Linked DNA regions of Homo sapiens. The protein of the gene in region 1 purifies or fractionates together with the protein of each later gene. This does not show direct contact. Each region holds a gene or a part of one and is shown in the gene's direction. Other genes may lie near its edges.

Region 1 (4,176 bases):
AGAAGTGGACTTGCAAAGTCTCAGAGTATGTACATTTACATTGTAGAAAGTTATTGCTAAATTTCCATCCAGGAAAGTTAGGTCAATTTCTACTTCTACTTCTATGACTATGTGAACTGCCCCTTTTCCTGAAACTGTATTAGGAAAGTTTAGGAAAACCTTTATTACCAGGATACCATATAGTATTTTGTCACTCTTAAAAACAGAACAAAAAACCCAAAAATTGTTTTAATCGAAATTTCTTAGGTGACTAGTGAGGGTGAACATTTTTATTTTCTTTATTTTTATTTATTTATTTTATTTTATTTTATTTTTTGAGATGGGGTCTTGCTCTGTTGCCAGGCTGGAGTGCAGTGGCGTGGTCTCGGCTCACTGCAACCTCTGCCTCCTGGGTTCAAGCGATTCTCCTGCCTCAGCCTCCCAAGTAGCTGGGATTACAGACACGCACCACCATGCCCAGCTAATTTTTGTATTTTTAGTAGAGACAGGGTTTCACCATGTTGGCCAGGCTGGTCTTGAACTTCTGACCTCGTGATCCGCCCACCTCGGCCTCCCAAAGTGTTGGGATTACAGGCCTGAGCCACTGTTTATTTTCATTGCATTTTAGCAGACAACACTCTGTTCTTTTTATACTAGTTTACTTTATCCCATCCATTTATATATACATATATATACACATATATGTGTGTTGTTTTTGTTTTGTTTTGTTTTGTTTTTTTGAGATGGAGTCTCGCTCTGTCGCCCAGGCTGGAGTGCAGTGGTGTGATCTTGGCTCACTGCAACCTCTGCCTCCTGGGTTCAAGCAATTCTCCTGCCTCAGCTTCCCCGAGTAGCTGGGACTACAGGTGTGCGCCACCACGCCCGGCTAATTTTTTTTTTTTTTTTTTTTTTTTTTTTTTTTTGATATTTTTAGCAGAGATGAGGTTTCCCCACGTTGGCCAGGCTGGTCTCGAACTCTTGACCTCAGGTTATCTGCCTGCCTTGGCCTCCCAAAGTGTTGGGATTACAGGCGTGAGCCACCGCACCCAGCCCATTTATATTTTTTAACTGGTCTTTTGAGGCTGTGCGTGTATGTGAGCAGATTAAATAAAAGAGTTTCCTCAGATGGCCCTATCAAGAAGTAAGCACTACCAAGAAGTAAGCACTACAGATCTGAATCAAAGTCTACCTTGCTCATTTTGGCTGGATCAGAGAAGGATTCTTGGGTTCTGTATACCGTGCTGAAACATGCAAGGCAGGTTGTGTTTTTAGGTTTTTATTAAATGAGGAAGGCAAGTTGCAGTGGCTCACGCCTGTGTTCCAGCACTTTGGGGAGGCTGAGACGGGTGGATCACCTGAGGTCAGGAGTTCGAGACTAGCTTGACCGACATGGAGAAATCCTGTCTCTACTAAAAATATAAAATTAGCTGGACGTGGTTGCTCATGCCTGTAATCCCAGCTACTCAAGGCTGAGGCGGGAGAATCTCTTGAAGCCGGGAGACAGAGGTTGCAGTGAGCCGAGGTCACACCATTGCACTACAGCCTGTGCAACAAGAGCAAAACTCCATCTCAAAAAATAATAATAATAATAAATGAGGAAAATACTGTAATATTATTTGATTATGGAGACAAACCTATTTACAATCTGACTGTTCAGATTGAATAGTTGTGACCAAACCTGGAATAACATTAAGAAATGTTCAAAACCTGTTTTAAAAAATTAAGCTGTAGAAAGGCCTGTTGTAATACAAATATCACATTAAACAAGAGTAAAACTCACTGAAAGGTACTTGTGTGATAAGTGTTGAAAAGTTGGGTTTTTGTGGGGTTTTTCTGGGGAGACTGGAGGCAGGGTCACACTCTGTCACCCAGGCTGGAGTGCAGTGGCATGATCTCTGCTCACTGCAACCTCTGCCTCCCAGGCTTACACAATCCTCCCACTTGAGCCTCCCTATTAGTTGGGACTATAGGCACATGCCACCACACTTGGCTAATTTTGATATTTTTTGTAGAGATAGGGTTTCGCCATGTTACCCAGGCTGGTCTCAAACTCATGAGCTTAAGTGATCCATCTGCCTCAGCTTCCCACAGTGCTGGGATTACAAGTGTGAGCCACCACACCTAGCTATTGTTTTTGTTTTTTTGAGACAAGTTCTCACTCTGTCACTTGGGCTGCAGTGGCACAAACACAGCCACTGCAGCCTCAACCTCATGGGCTCAGGCGGTCCTCCCTCAGCCTCTGAAAGTGCTGGGATTGCAAGTGTAAACCATTGTGCCTGGCCTATTATACTTGACATTAAAAAGAAGATTTTTGCCCGGGCATGGTGGGTCACACCTGTAACCTCAGCACTTTTGGAGGCCAAGGGAGAACCACTTGAGGCCAGGAGTTCGAGACCAGCCTGGGCAACATAGTGAGACCCCCATCACTACAAAACAAAATATTAGTCAGGTGTGGTGGCATGCCCTTATGGTTCCAGCTGCTCAGGGGGGCTGAAGTGGAAGGATTGCCTCAGCCTGGGAGGTCAAGGCTGCAGTGACCCGTGTTTGCGCCACTGCACTCCAGCCTGGGTGACAGAGTTAGACCCTGTCTCAAAAAAAAAAAAAAAAAAAAAAGATCCTTAATTGGAGAAATGTCAGGATGTAGAAAGAAAAAGTCGTCAATGAAAATGGAATATTTGAGTAAATGGAGTATTATACTCACTTGGGGAGGTTTTATTTGAGTTGGTTTATTTGAAATTAGAATCAGTGACTTTACCGGTATGAATAACCTTTAGTAATTTTTCAAACTGTGGGACCAGAGGAAATAAGACCTTTCATTGTTTGCCTGCAATAACACCAAAATATCACTGTAGTCACCTGAGTAAGTTTTGTTACAAAACACATTAATCAAAGTTCACTTTCTTTAGGCTAATGTGCCTTTTCTTACAGATGTTCTTTGCATATAGAAAAAAATCATTTACTTTGATTTATATTTCTTTTAACTTGCATTTGATCCCCTTAAGAACACGACCTCGAGATGATATCCTCAGTAGACGTGAAAGATCAAAAGATGCCAGCCCCATCAATAGATGGTCTCCAACCCGAAGAAGAAGTAGATCTCCCATTAGAAGGAGGTCTCGTTCCCCACTCAGACGTAGCAGGTCTCCAAGAAGAAGAAGCAGATCTCCTCGGAGAAGGTAAAGACATTTCATCCTTGTGATTCATTAAACTCTGAATGTTTTTGAACCACCAGTGAGCTCACTTGGTAGGTTTTCTTTTAGACCAGTTTTCTCTGAAAAATCGTAGTTGTGTTCCCATAGTTTCCTTTTACCAGCAATCTCTACACATGGGTTTTCTTTTATATCGTTTCCTTTGAATTTTAAACAAATCATTGCTCATTTAGGATGCAATAAAATTAGTCTTTTAAAAATAGGACTTTTTTCTCTCTTTTATCAATCAATACTAAATGAGCCAGACTTAGGGATTTTTTTTTTTTTTTAACCAGCAAGGTAGATCATGTAGTAGTAAATATATAGCCCAGTTTCTTACATTTTATATTAATTTTGCATATTGATAGTTACTGTAGACTTAGGCAAAGGCCTATTTAATTTGCCATAGAAACCATTTTATCTGAAGCATATGTAGTCAGTAATAGGTTAAAAAGGTGGTTTATAAAGCAGGGAATCATTTTTTAAAATTCATACATACATGAAATATTTTAATATAAAACATAAATGGGTATTTGTTTGCCAATCTTTTAACATTTTTAATTGAAGTAATAAATGAATATAATTTTTAAGAAACAAAGGCTTATATTATAGCCATCTTTACATATCTCTCAGAATTTTTGTATGCTGTATTCCTAGAAATGGAAATGCATGGTCTGAGTGCACTCTGGTCAATGAGGGGTTTTATTTTATTTTATTTTATTTTATTTTTTGACAGTCTCACTCTGTTGCCCACGCTGGAGTGCAATGGCGCGATCTCACTGCAACCTCCACCTCCTGAGTTCAAGCAATTCTGCCTCAGCCTCTCAAGTAGCTGGGACTAGAGGTGCCCATGCCACCATGCCCAGCTTTTTTTTTTTTGTATTTTTCTAAATAGAGATGGAGTTTCACTATGTTGGTCAGGCTGGTCTCGAACTCCTGACCCCAAATGATCCGCTCGTCTTGGCCCACTGCACCCAGCCACAATGAGGGTTTTTAATACTACCGCTTA
Region 2 (3,837 bases), on another chromosome or scaffold:
TTAAGAATTTTGTAAGTATTAGAAGTATTTGAGGAAGCTACATAGCAGTGTACTAGAAAAGCTACGTCATTTATTTATATTAGAATCTAGAAGTTATTGATAGTATGACCAAAAATTCTTTTGAGGGAACAGAGTCATTTGGTTCGTATAAACTGTGTTTAGGAAACAAAGAAACCAGACAGAAGGCTAGATAACTTTACCAAAGAATCCGTTATAAAATTATTAAGTATTATCTGTGAAAAGCAAAGTTCTACCCTTGTTATAAAAAATAATAGACCACTTAGCTTTCATGATCTCATTTCTATGTCATCATATTTAAATGAACTTATTTACATAAGCTGATAAATCTACTTAAATAATAAAACGTTTTTGTTAAGCATATTGAATGTATATGAGGAGGGGGCAGTATGAGAAATACTGGAAAAATACAAAAGGGTAAAGTAGCCATTACATTCTAGATGCTTCAGTTAGCACTAAGGAGATAAGATATATGAAAGAAGAAACAAAACAAGATATAACATGATTAATGACTAAAGTTAAATCTATCAGTTCAGTATGGATTTTCCTCCATCACATCCATTGTATTGATATGATATTTAAATACTAAACTTTTAGGATTGTAAAGAGGAAAAAAAAGACCCACAGAAGCTATATCTAGTATCTTTTCTCCATTTATCCCTAAAAGATTAGGAAGCTTTATATGTTAATTTATATTTCCCTGAAAAGATGTTTCCCTTTTCTCAGAAATACATTCCATTTTTAATAGTCAGGAAAATCCTTAAATATTCTCAAATTCTCTCAGGTGGAAAAATCAAAATATATATTTTCTCATTGGCTTCTACTTGAAAAAAAAGAAAGGGATTTTGTATTTCCATATGTGGCATTAATAACCAGAAGACTATAATTTAAAAATTCCTCAATTTATAAAATTTTGCTATGTCCTAACTATGAAAAGTCTGCTGTTACATACTTACAATTTTTAAAATTCTTTTAATCGGCTATAGATTTTTTTAAAATGTTGTTAAAAGTTCTGCATTTTTCACTTTACTTAGGAAATCCAAAATTATCATTCTTTCAAGTAGATAATACTTTTTAAAAACTAGTTATGTTGTTCTTCTCTACTATGTAGTTGAAAATATAGAAAATAAACAATGTTTATTTGACATTCTCTGTATAAATCTACAATAGATTCTGGTTTTTTGAGCAAACCTCAAGGATGGAAAGTTACAAAAGTGAGAATGAACACAGTGAACTTCCCTTCTATAAAACACATTAAGAGGAAAGAAGAGCAATATATTTAGGTTTAAGATCAGATGACCCTTTTATACCATTATGACTATAGTTAATAACAATGCCTTGGGTATTTGAAATAGCTGAAAGTAGATCTTAAATGTTCTCACCACAAAAAAGATAAGTACGTGAGGTAATGGATATATTAATTAGCTTGACTTAGCCATTCCATAATGGTATACATATATCAAAACATCATGTTATACACCACAAATATATATAATTTTTGTCAATTCATAAATAGAAAATTAAATATATGAAAGGAGAAAAATGATCAGATGACTCTAATTTTCATCTCATACAATTGGCCTTCCTGACTTCTCTAGGAATTGCTTATTTGTGCAGCTTGAAATTGTACTTAAACTACTTCGTCACAATGCTGGCTCGTTTGTTTTGTATACTTAAGTCATTTTTAACTTACATCTCAAAATGTAATGTAATATAGCTGGCCCTCTCTAGCCATAGGTTTTGTATTAGTGGGTTTTGCATCTGTGAATTCAACTGAGGATTGAAAATATTTGAGAGGGGAAAAAGAAATGATTGCGTCCCCACTGAACGTGTGTAGTCTTTATTTTTTTGTACTTATTCACTAAGCAATACAGTATAACAACTATTTACATAGCTTTTACATTGTATTAGGTATTATAAGTAATCTAGACATGATTTAAAGTATATGGGAGGGTGTGAGTAGGTTATATACAAATATTATACCACTTTATATAAGGTACTCAAGCATCCTTGGGATTTGGTATCCTGGGGGAATAAGGGGCCTGGAACCAGTCTTCATGGATACTGACAGACAACTGTATGATGCTCCTTTTATTTTTATTTTATTTGTCTTAATCAATTCCTTCTTTGTGGTTTTTATTTCATAGAGACAGAGATCAGTGAGTCTGGCATGACAGTGAGAAGTACTGGCTCTGCAACTTCCTTGGCTAGCCAGGGAGAGAGAAGGAGACGAACTCTTCCCCAGCTTCCAAATGAAGAAAAGTCTCTTGAGAGCCACAGAGCAAAGGTTGTAACACAGAGGTCAGAGATAGGAGAAAAACAAGACACAGAACTTCAGGAGAAAGAAACACCTACACAGGTATACCAGAAAGATAAACAAGATGCTGACAGACCCTTGAGTAAAATGAACAGGGCAGTAAATGGAGAGACTCTCAAAACTGGTGGAGATAATAAAACCCTACTTCACTTAGGCAGCTCTGCTCCTGGAAAAGAGAAAAGTGAAACTGATAAGGAAACTTCTTTGGTAAAGCAAACATTAGCAAAACTTCAACAACAAGAACAAAGGGAGGAGGCTCAGTGGACACCTACTAAATTGTCTTCCAAAAATGTTTCAGGTCAGACAGATAAATGTAGGGAGGAAACTTTTAAACAAGAATCACAACCTCCAGAAAAAAATTCAGGACATTCTACAAGCAAAGGAGACAGAGTGGCACAAAGTGAGAGCAAGAGAAGAAAAGCTGAGGAAATTCTGAAAAGTCAGACTCCAAAGGGAGGAGACAAGAAGGAATCCTCCAAGTCATTAGTGCGACAAGGGAGCTTCACTATAGAAAAACCCAGCCCAAACATACCCATAGAACTTATTCCCCATATAAATAAACAGACTTCCTCTACTCCTTCTTCTTTAGCATTAACATCTGCAAGTAGAATACGAGAAAGAAGTGAGTCTTTGGATCCTGATTCTAGTATGGACACAACCCTTATTCTAAAAGACACAGAAGCAGTAATGGCTTTTCTAGAAGCTAAACTACGTGAAGATAATAAAACTGATGAAGGACCAGATACTCCCAGTTATAATAGAGACAATTCTATTTCACCAGAATCTGATGTAGATACAGCTAGTACAATCAGTCTGGTTACTGGAGAAACTGAAAGAAAGTCAACCCAAAAGCGAAAGAGTTTCACTAGCCTCTATAAAGATAGGTGTTCCACAGGTTCTCCTTCCAAAGATGTTACAAAATCATCATCTTCAGGTGCTAGGGAAAAAATGGAAAAGAAAACAAAAAGTCGTTCCACAGATGTGGGTTCAAGAGCAGATGGTCGTAAATTTGTTCAGTCCAGTGGGAGAATAAGACAGCCCTCAGTAGACTTAACAGATGATGACCAAACCTCTAGTGTACCTCATTCTGCCATCTCTGATATTATGTCATCTGATCAAGAAACTTACTCTTGTAAACCTCATGGACGGACTCCACTTACCTCAGCTGATGAGCATGTACATTCCAAACTGGAAGGAAGTAAAGTAACGAAATCTAAGACTTCTCCGGTGGTATCTGGTTCATCTAGTAAATCAACCACCCTTCCAAGGCCACGACCTACCAGGACTTCCCTCTTGCGCAGAGCACGACTTGGTGAAGCTTCAGACAGTGAACTTGCTGATGCTGACAAAGCATCTGTTGCTTCTGAAGTATCCACAACAAGTTCTACATCAAAACCTCCCACAGGAAGGCGTAACATCTCTCGGATTGATTTATTGGCTCAGCCTCGTAGAACACGACTTGGCTCACTGTCAGCTCGTAGTGACTCTGAAGCAACAATTTC

The links. Proteins that work in one complex are often made in the same cells at the same time.
Region 2: the proteins of PRP4K (region 1) and CEP170 purify together in Homo sapiens (co-immunoprecipitation; one large-scale study listed by IntAct). This does not show direct contact.

The regions. Positions count from the first base shown.
Region 1 is NC_000006.12:4,034,416-4,038,591, forward strand, and holds part of PRP4K (serine/threonine-protein kinase PRP4 homolog), read left to right. Parts: intron 1-2,981; coding exon 2,982-3,155; intron 3,156-4,176. UniProt on the Homo sapiens protein: Serine/threonine kinase involved in spliceosomal assembly as well as mitosis and signaling regulation. Connects chromatin mediated regulation of transcription and pre-mRNA splicing.
Region 2 is NC_000001.11:243,164,445-243,168,281, reverse strand, and holds part of CEP170 (centrosomal protein of 170 kDa), read left to right. Parts: intron 1-2,165; coding exon 2,166-3,837.